Regions from separate parts of the Homo sapiens genome. Here region 1 is linked to region 2. Evidence: fine-mapped expression QTL. A gene starts in region 2. The other region holds a variant in brackets. All regions are shown on one strand. Distances are from middle to middle.

Region 1 (5,312 bases), 23 kb before region 2:
TTCTTGCCCTCCCATTTAAAAATCTTTTAGGTGAAGTATACAAAAATAAAGATTCCCATCTGATAAACAAATGTTAACTGCTGCCTTGAAGAGTGGTAATACTGATTCTGTGAAGCCGGGATTGGGACACACACTGGATACTGGTCCTGAGAATTTCTTTTCCCAACGCCAGCCTCATGGATGCTGGGAGCATAGTGCCAGTGAATGAAGACACAGCTCACACCTCACTACTATCGATCTGTGACTGTTGTGACACTCACCATGTCAGTGCCCAAGTCAATGCAGAGGATGGTGACAGTCCCCAGTGGTAGTGGAATGTTTGCAATAATAAATATCAGGAACGGGGTGATCTCGGGAATGTTACTGGTTAAGGTATAAGCAATGGATTTCTTCAAGTTATCAAAGATCAGACGACCTATGAAAACCAAGATTTTTTACTGTTAGCTTATGAGACAAGCACACTGGAAACTGAACATATCCAAGAAGTATACAGAAATGGATGCTAATGGGCAGTATCTGAATAAGATCTTGGTGTACACCTTAAATAGCTCTCACCTTCCTCTACTCCAGTCACAATTGAGGCAAAGTTGTCATCCAGAAGAATCATGTCAGCAGCTTGCTTGGACACATCTGAGCCAGCAATCCCCATAGCAACCCCAATGTCTGCTTTCTTCAAAGCTGGAGAGTCATTCACACCGTCACCAGTCACAGCCACGATAGCACCCTACCCCAGAAAAGGGAAAACGGGTTAATACCAATCACTTTTCCTAGCGATGGAAATAGTGCGATGCATGCCCCCACTGAGCACTCATTACAGACACTGCTCCTTTCCTATTGAGACTATTTATGAAGCCTGAGAACCGTCACAGGCAAGTATTCACACAGGCCCTACACCAAATAACAGAACTGAGAAGTGACAACAAACATAGCCCCCAGCATTAACAAGAGCTACTCAAAGTAATGACTCTGGTGGGTGGCACTCCAGAAAATGCCATTCCTGTATGCACGCCCTGTAGTCTGACCACTCACATCTCTATTGCAAATACTAGGACCCCATATCAGATGACTCCACGGAGCGGTCAGGCTCTGGGACACAGTGGACACCTGGACTTTAAAGTGCTTCTGTCACTGCTAAACCATTAACAAGTCACCCTCTCTATGCCTATGAGCTTCCTACTGGCCTATTTATACTGAGTCTAATACAGCGAGGTATGCATCCATCCATCACCGTTGCTCTGTTTCCACTGGAACTCCAATCCCTAAAGCCAATAGTGCCCAAAGCAGCCTGATCCTTGTGCTGGCTGACCTGTCTTTGGCAGCCTTCCACAATGATGAGCTTCTGCTGAGGGGAGGTCCTGGCAAACACTATCTCAGTGTGGTACTTCAAAATGTCATCCAGCTGCTCGGAGGTCATGTCCTTTAGATCACTGCCGTGTACTACGCAGGCCTTGGCATCCCTAGAATTAGGACAAAAAAAAAAAAAAAGTCACGCATCACATCACCAGCATGTGTCCATCACCTCAAGAGGGGATATTCTTATGCAGATCACTTTGTAAACAAAACAAAGAAGGAATTTTCCCCAGCACATAAAAGCTATTAAGTGTTCAGTACTTTACAGGTTACAGAGCATTTTCATATATTTTATCTCATTTGAGGCTCATGATGATCTCTAAGGCAGGCCTGTCTGTATTCTTCCTTTCCCTATCTTTATTAGACATGCTGAAATATAACCAAGTTTTAGCTGGGTGTGTGGCTCATGCCTGTAATCCCAGCACTTTGGGAGGCTGAGGTGAGTGGATCACTTGAGGTCAGGAGTTCGAGACCAGCTTGCCAAAATGGTGGTCTAAAAATTCAAAAATTAGCCGGGCATGGTGGTTGGGGCCTGTAATCCCAGCTACTTGGGAGGCTGAGGCAGGAGAATCACTTGAACTCAGGAGGTGGAGGTTGCAGTGAGCCAAGATCATGACACTGCACTCCAACCGGGATGACAGAGCGAGACTCCATCAAAGAAAAAAAGAAATATAACCAAGTTTTAGAAAGTGGCAGAGCTGATACAAGACCAAACCCTCCTCTAACCGTAACATAGGGTGAAAGGGCCCTAAACCTTAAAACAAAACCAATTTGCTATTATCTGTTTTACTTCATTGCCAAATGTCTCCTGTGTTTGCCTGAATGGCCTAAGTAATTGTCCCTTCCTTATTTTATTTTGTTAGTGTGGACCTGGAAAGTGTCAAGATGCTAGGTGCTAGGCAGTAGAGCTCAGTGGTTAACAGCATGAAATCAGAAGCTAGACTGCTGAATTTACTGCATGATTTCACCAGTTCTGAGGTACTTCAAAAGCCTCTTGAATCCTTACCTTCCCTGCTCTGCAAATAATAGGTCACCATATCAAGCTCTTAGAACAGTAAATACCATCTAAGTGCTAATTATTATGACTTGCTCTTACTTAAAACCCTTCTTAGGAATGACAAGGTTGCTTTCTGGCAGTGCAGGTACATTTCCTACTCAGAGCAAGCCTAGATGCAAACCATTATAGAACCACGCTGAAGATTTTAAACCATCACTATTTGCTTGTTCACAGCAGACTGTGATTTGAGCTTCCTGCCTTACCTGGGGTTCACCTGGCTGACTGGGATGTTGAGGCGGGCAGCAATGTCTTCCACGGTCTCATTGCCTTCTGAGATGATGCCCACACCTTTGGCAATAGCTTTAGCTGTGATTGGATGGTCTCCTGTGACCATGATGACCTGTAATAAACAAGACAATGTGTTGAATGCAACTGCCAAGTAAATGACCTTAAAGTCTTATATCCAGTAGGCAAGAGTAAATACTAAGGATGATTCGGCTTAGACTATCAAAAGGAAAGGAATGCAAATATAAAACTAATAAACATCGATTAGCCAAAAATATAAACATATATATCCACAGAAAGGAAACACAAAGGCAATACTCAGGTTTTATCTTGGTATACAATCACTAGCATACACAATGTCTATTTTTCCTTCTACAGAGTTACATAAAAATACTTGAAAATTACTAAAACCAGCAAAAAAAAAAAAAAAAAAAAA[G/AAAG]GATAAAAATCTGATGCTGGTGGGACTGTGAAGACACCACATGCTACTGGCTAGCATTCTCAAATTGGCACAACTTGGAGGAAAAGCAACATGTGACAAGAATTCAAAATTGTTATTTTTTGATGCAGTGATTATACTTAGAATATACTTTAAAAAGAAGCAGTCGGAATGGTGAGGAAATAACTTCTACAAAGCTTTTCAGGGCAGTATTAATCCTGAGAGTAGGCCGGGTGTGGTGGCTCACGCTTGTAACCCCAGCACTTTGGGAGGCTGAGGTGGGCAGATCACCTGAGGTCAGGAGTTTGAGACCAGCCTGGCCAACGTGGCGAAACCCTATCTTTACTTAAAAATACAAAAATTAGCTGGGCGTGGTAGCGGGTGCCTGTAATTCCAGCTACTTGGGAGGCTGGGGCAGGAGAATTGCTTGAACCTGGGAGGCGGAGGTTGCAGTGAGCCGAGATCGTGCTATGACATTCCAGCCTGGGCAATAGAGCAAGACTCTGTCTCAAAAAATAAATAAAATAAAATCCTGAGAGTAAAAAACAGAAACCAAATACCCAGCAACAGGATATTAGTGCACTTGAGTAATATTCAGCTACTTAAAAAAAGACAGATACACAGAGGACACCAAACACTCATTAACAAACAGTTAACTGAAAACACAGAAGATATGCCATTCATTGCATAAGGTACATTAACTTAGAATAATGCAAGTATTTTAAAACTTCAAGTCTTTTGCTGTTTTTACTTTGCTTACATTTCTTTTTTACACAATTGCTTTCCAAAAAATTTTTAATTCCTCGTGTGTTTACACCATCATATTTTAATACTATCTGGTCTTTTCTGGGTGGAAGTAAAGCTTTGGAGATGAGAAATTAATACTCCAGGTGAGATAGAACAGCTGGCCATCTGGACCTCAAAAGGCAACATTCACTGAGTAGGGTGTCCCAAGGCACTAAGAGATGAAGCCAAGGAGGCGCCTGGGCACTACCTTAATTCCAGCACTTCGACATTTGCCCACGGCATCAGGAACGGCCGCCCGTGGAGGGTCAATCATGGAGATGAGCCCAACAAAGCACAGATTATCGATAGGGAAATTCACATCGTCAGTGTCAAACTGGAACCCTTCAGGAAACTGTTCATCTGGCAGAAAGAGGTGGCAGAAACCTGCGAGGAGGACAGGAGCCTTTGAAAATTTCAGTGACGCTGGGCAGTAAGAAGGACAACAGCAGCCTATTCAGCCCGCCTACCTTTCTCTGGAGTGTTTACTTTGGAAAATTTTTAAAGTCTATATTTTTATAACAGAGTGAGGGTTTTATTTAACATTTATGAACGATAGAGTCACTGAAAGAAAAAAAGCATTTGAAAGACAGAATCCATCACACCAGGCCTCAAAGGAATTGGAAATTGTTTAATGTGGAGAAGACTGAATTGATAACACTAATTTTGAGCACCAGGATATTAGGGTTCTAGACTTGCCCACTGATGATGACATTAAGTTATTTGGATTTGGCAAATCATGGAATTATCTGCCTCAGCTGCCTTCTCTGGAAACATCAAGGCCATACCTCTGCTCTCTTGTTCATTTAACTGAAACATATTACTGAGCACCAATGTGGGACATCATGCTAGCTACTTTTGAGGATAAGTACAGATCAGATGCATTCTGCCCAGGGGGTTTATCATCTAGTATAGTAAATACAAGAATCAAGATAATGTAAGACATTCTTTTCAATGTTGTATGACGTTACAATGATCTTTAACGTGCCATGTGGACTCAAAAGAAGAGAGACTGCTTCCACTTTGGGGTGGTGGAAGTAGGGAAGTGAAAAACACTTAAAGAGAAGATAGCAATCCTTCGGTTGGATAGACACATACGAAAGATACCATGAGTTAGATTTACCCAAGTTAAGAAGAATAGGAAGCATTATATAAATAATGAATGTAGTATCTGTCAACCTACAAAGTATTATAAATGCCACTTTCCCAAATACATTAGACAATGGGTAAAGTGAACTTCTCAGCCTCAGTAGCTGTCAGGGTAGAAAAAAATAGGTAGCATCTTAGACTAAAAGTTTACCGTTAGTCTAGTTTCTAAGCTGAGCACATAAGTGCTCATGTAAATTCACACCCATTCCAAGGCAGTCAGGAAATAGTATGTCTAACTTAGACACACTAAGAATTAATTAACTTTAATTAGGCTTATAAGTCATGTCCACAGCAACAAAGGTTAGATAAGAAAGA
Region 2 (5,376 bases):
TCAGCAAGAGCTGTTCTTTCATTTTCTTACCAAATGCTTAGGAACTAGACTTTTAAGGACATATAAAATCACCTGAAATATCATCAAAAGCTAGGCCACAAAGGGTACTGAGGAGAGGAGGGGAAGAAATTTACAATGACCTTAAAAATTAGCTGCCGGCACAGGCTTCCTTGTTAGCCAATTATCAGCAGGGCTTTAGTCACTCTCCACCCACATTTTAATCCCCATGTGGAAAAATCCCAACATGAAATATTCTTCTGAACATTTGGACGCTCACAATAAGTCACAGGACAAACACACACACAAACACACACACAAGTAAACTAATGTTTAATGTATCAGAATACTCAAAATGCTAACTACCACCCAGCAGCCAAGCAGCTCATCATCCCAGTGTTCGCAGCTGTAATTTAATCTTGTGTTTGCTAGCCACTATACATTTTGTTGTAAGACATCTGGGTTTAAGCTCTACTAACTATTCAGGTGGGTTACCACCGCATCACTACTGTGCATGTGTGCCTGTGTGTGGTTATAAAGGAGACATCTAGATAAATGGACATAACTTAGTTACCCAAACCATCTCCATGGCCTATTAATTCAACATCACAAATACCCCGTTTCATCCGAAGTTCTGAGTTCTGTATAAAGAACTCAATGTTAAAGAGTAAATGCATGTTCAGGCTTGAGGCCACAGGCTGTTCAAGAATCAGGGACGCCTAGTCTGTCACTAGCCAACCGTTTGACCTTGAGCAAGTCACTTCACCTTCCTAGGCTTGGGGCACACATCTGTGATGTCTAAACCCCCCAAAATTAGCTCAGGAAGTAAACTTTTTTCTTTTTCTTTTAAGGCAGGAGAGACAAAGAATGAGCTTTAAAGTGCATGTTTACAGAAATGATCAAGGGTTTGACGGTGTGGTAAAAGCACAGGCCACTAACCCAGACTCCATCAGGGGAATGGAGAGGCCCTGTACTCCGCTCTTTGATGCCACCTGACCTGGACCAGCCCTCCACGCTGCATGCTTTTAAAAGCGAGGCGAGTTGTGCATTTCCACTTGTGCCTGTTCTCCCCACCAGGTCCAAGCCTTTCAATTACCTCCTTTAAAACTCCCTTAGAGTCCCCAAGGAGTGCAGCCTCCCTCTGCTCCCGACACTCTGTCTACACCCAGAAGCCTCAGGGCCTTCAAAGACCTACTCAGTGTCTGCACTGTGCTAAACCCTGGAGACAACGAAGTGGATTCTCTCCCATTTGTATTCTCATGACATGGTCACTTTCACCCCATGAACTCCGAGGTTATTCTGTGTAAATTTTTCTCAACTAGACTTTGGCTCATTTGGGGTCCAGGGCCCAGTCTCCTGCACGGGTAATAGCTAGGGGTAATCAAGTCTTCGCTACAGAAATGTAGGACAGCGGCGTTGTGACGATATTCCCACCACGCTCCGCGCCGCTCTCCAGCCCCAAGACCCCTCGTTTCCTTCAGGGACCGCCCTTTGGTGCTTCCGCGACGCTGGAAACCGGCAGAGATTCCTACCACCGTATTGCCTGCAGCCTCCAGTCCTTTTTCGGGTTTCTTGTACCCTGAGGCCCTGGTGGGTCTGCCTATCCTCCTTCAGGGCTCGTCCCTTCAAAAAAAATCTGCACGCCTCTCCCCACCATCGGATGACAACTCCAGTTGCCATCGGTGCATCCTGTGTTTACGGAAAGTGGCCCAAGAAAGCCCTCAAAAGTATACCTTAAAGGCCATCTTAGGGCAGTGAAGACACACCCTTTCTGGCACCAGCCCGCCCAGCCGGCTTCGCACTTAGAAGCAGCCAGTTTTTTCTTTGGGGGAGGGCGGCCGCCTCTGCGCGGAGCAAGCTAAGCCCCAGCGTCCCCAGGAGAAGGAGCCCCGAACCCGGAGGCTGCCCCCGCCGGAACCGGGGCCGCGGCGGGAACGGAGGCCCGGGAGGAGGCCCCGGCGGAGCGCCCCAGGGGAAGGGGAGGAGCGCGCCTTTCCTCAGGGCACGGAGGGCGGAGGGAAAAGGAAGGAGAAGGAGGTGACGGCGGTCGCAGGGAGGGGAGCCAGGCTCAGGGATGCCGGCTCAGTCCCGGGGCCGCCCCCGCTGCTGCAAGCCCCCTCCTCCCGGCCCCGAGGCTTCCCAAGCACCGCCTCTCGGAGCCCCCGGCCCGCTCGGCCTCCGGGGCGCGCAGCCCCCGCCCAGGGTCCGCCCACCCCCCTAAGCAATGCCGCGCTCCAGCCCCTCGGCGCTCCCTTCCCCCGCCCCCCGTTACTGCGCTCCCTCCATTTCCAAACTGCGTCGTCTTTTAAGCCGCGCGGCTCTGCCAGCCCACTCCACGCGGCGCCGCTTCCTCCTCCGCCGCCTCCCGCTGGCCGCGGTCGCCCTCCCGACTTCCTCCTCTTCCCCTCGAGGGCTCCCCGAGCCCCCTCCCCGGGCGCGCCGGACACTCACCCCCTTCCCCATGGTGGCGGTGCTCAGTGCCCGGCGCCGGGTCCTGTCGCTGGAGAATCAGAGAGAAAAGCACAGAGCAGCTCCCGGCCGAGCGAGCGGGACCAGGGGAGCCAAGTGGAGGGAGCTAGGGCTGCCGCGGGGCGGGAGGGTGGGAGGGCGGCCGGCGGCTCGGGCCGATGCCGCCGCCGCTGTTGCTGCCGCCGCCCGGGCTGCTACCGCTGTTGCCACGTGTCCGCCTCCTCCCGCCGCTGCTCTGCGCCCCAGACCCCGCCGCAGCTCCAGCCCGCGCCTCCTCCTCACTTCCTAAAATATGCAACCTGCGTGCTGGCCCCGCCCACGCCGCGAAACGTCACCGTTACCGGAGCAACCTGACACCGGCCGTGGGCCTGGCTCCGCCCCCTCCCGAAACCCCGCCCACGGGCCCGGACAGCGCCTGCTGCGGCCAGTCCTGGCTCCCGGCAGGAGGGCGCCCAGGTCTGGGACAAGCGTGTCCACCGTGTCCCGGGAGGGCTGCGGGGCGCTCCTGCTGGCTGAACAGCGGGGACTCGGCGGCCTTGGCCCTCCCACGCCCCTCCTCCCGCTGCCCTGCATGACCCGCCTACTATGTAGGGCCCAGGAGGTCCGCAGTGGGTGCGGTACGGTCTCGGAACTGGGCTCCCCCAGTCGCCGCCGACCCGGCACCAGAAGTCGTGGGCGGAACGGCTTTTCCAGCGCTTCGGCGATCTCCTCTGGGACTCAGGGATGCTGGAGGGGGCTGGCGCTCGGGTGTGATTGCAGCCAGCGCCTGACTGAGGGACTCCGCCCCTCTGTGGAATCCAGGCCCCGCGCCCACCTGCGGATGGCCTCCCCGGGCGCTTGGTGCTCTCAGAGTGCCTCCTGTGACTTGGGGTCCTCTTTATCCACTTCCCGCTCCGTCATAGCTGGAATCGATCTGAACTGGCATCGCCAGAAGTTTCAAGCGCCCTCCTCCCACCACCTCTCTTTCTTCGAGATTCCAAAATGAGAATCTGAAGGGCGACCAGCGAATTCATTCACGCTATTGTGTGAATGTAACCTGCTTGTCCAGTTTGGGGATTCTCTTTTTAGGGAAGAAAAACCTGAAACCCAAAGGAATGCGTATCCTTAGCTAGAGGAGCTAAATCAAGGGGGAGGCGTTTGAGGACTTGCCAGGTGCCTCTCCACGCCTCCACCTGTCACGGCAGCATCTCCAGCACAGCCTTGGGTTCTCTGGGGGGGCCCAGGAAACCACCACTCTCCCCGGAGATCCCTGGTTCCACTGCACTTTGGGGCTTCTCTGTCATTATAGCTTTTGCTTCTTAGCAAGAGGCTGCAATGGCTGAAGTTCTCCAACATTTTAAAAAACAAAGTATTATTAACAAGGTTTGCAGGAAGTCAAGTACTCTGGGAAAGGCCAGGATATTGACTTTCTAAGCAAAGGTTCCTAAGTTAAAGCCAACTCTATCAACTTCAAGTATTCATGTAGCATGAACAAACAAGGATATGAAACTGGAAAAAATGGAGAAGGAAGGAAAGAAAGGAAAAACTAGAAACTGTGTTGTCAGTTACATCATTAGGGTAATTCTCATCCCTTCTTACAAGATAGTTTCTTACACGAGTCTCTTCTCCTCAAGAATGTATTGTTAAAGGTTGATGTCTCCTACAGTGATCTAGAGACTTGGTTCAATCATTCTAGGCCATAGAGAGCAGAGGAATTGTAAATAGAATTCAAAACCCTGACTGCCTGGAGAAGAGCCCCCAAATTCAGAACAGAATTCCTTAGACTGTTAACAGAGGGTTACAGAGTGTTCGGGGATCCATCTCTAAGCTTCTAGAAAATGCTTTCTTTACATGCTTGATAGCCTCAGTTACTGTACTTTGTAAGATGCTTTTGCTTGCTAAAGATAGCTTGTTTAAGATTAATTACTCCTGGGCCAGGCACTGTGGCTCACGCCTGTAATCCCAGCACTTTGGGAGGCCGAAGCGGGCGGATCATGAGGTCAGGAGATCAAGACCATCCTGGCCAACCTGGTGAAACCCCGTCTCCACTAAAAATACAAAAAAAAACTAGCTGGGCGTAGTGGCACATGCCTGTAATCCCAGCTACTCGGGAGACTGAGGCGGGAGATTCGCTTGAACCACAGAATCGGAGGTTGCAGTGAGCTGAGATGGCGCCACTGCACTCCAGCCTGGTGACAGAGTGAGGATCCATCTCAAAAAAATAAATAAATAAAAATAAAAACAAAGATTAATTACTCCTTGGGCCCTGGTCTGAATGGGAAAAGTGCCGCGGCAACAACTAAATATATAAAGCACGGGTCGGAACAACGTAGATTTCTCCTGCCAGCTGATCTCCTTTTTCTCCCCTCATAAGTAAAATTCTCATTCATTCACTCAACAAAATAACCCTGATAGATCAAGGCACTTCCCTTTGTATCTAGAGCTATTTATTTGGCAACTGAAAATTGCTGAAGGTCCTTTCAGGAGGATCCCAGAGTTCTAGCTGTGTTCCGGTGTGAAGAAAGGGCAAAAAATATAAGAAACATTATCTTAAATCTGTATTTTGCTTTTGATGCCACACAGTAATTTCAGATGCACAGTGCCCTTGAATTCTCACAAGTCTTTGAGGTAAAGAAAAAGGTAAGGCATGACCAAGTCTGAGGCGCAGAAGGAAATCTCAGATATGAGAGAGACACCTTGGAAAATGGGTAAGCAAAGGAGGAAAAGTCCTTTTTTTTTTTTTTTTTTAAGAAAAAGCCTTCTTTTCTTCCCTTGGAAGAGTGGCTTCTGAATGAAATGAAACCTTATAGATGAAACATCAAGCTCCCTCATTTTATGATGAAGAAACTGAGGCCCAGGGAGTAATTGGTATTGAATATTCCAAGAATAGTGGCAAGACTTTCAGGTAGCTTTTCTAACTCCAGTGCAGGG

Direction of the effects. Alleles are on the strand shown, and positions count from the first base shown. SD is a standard deviation of normalised expression in the study named.
As copies of G replace AAAG in region 1, the expression in monocytes after Pam3CSK4 of the gene that starts at base 2,728 in region 2 goes down (moderate effect, 0.61 SD a copy in Quach 2016).

The links. PIP is the estimated chance that this variant, and not a neighbour inherited with it, causes the effect.
Region 1: its variant is the best candidate, but not a certain one, in a credible set for the expression of ATP1A1 in monocytes after Pam3CSK4 (Quach 2016, PIP 0.78).

The regions. Positions count from the first base shown.
Region 1 is chr1:116,394,033-116,399,344 of GRCh38, reverse strand. ATP1A1 (ATPase Na+/K+ transporting subunit alpha 1) reads right to left here. Exons shown (of 23, transcript NM_000701.8): 13 at 4,060-4,235; 14 at 2,611-2,747; 15 at 1,307-1,457; 16 at 556-724; 17 at 261-415. All of the region lies in intron 2 of ATP1A1-AS1 (ATP1A1 antisense RNA 1), which reads left to right. Among named protein-coding and RNA genes, the nearest start is that of ATP1A1-AS1, 22 kb to the left of the region's middle. The variant G/AAAG (reference allele first, on the strand shown) is at 3,069.
Region 2 is chr1:116,370,596-116,375,971 of GRCh38, reverse strand. It overlaps ATP1A1 (ATPase Na+/K+ transporting subunit alpha 1), which reads right to left and starts at 2,728. Exons shown (of 23, transcript NM_000701.8): 1 at 2,449-2,728. The coding sequence starts at 2,460. RefSeq lists an enhancer at 1,352-1,471 and silencers at 1,842-2,141, 2,572-3,101.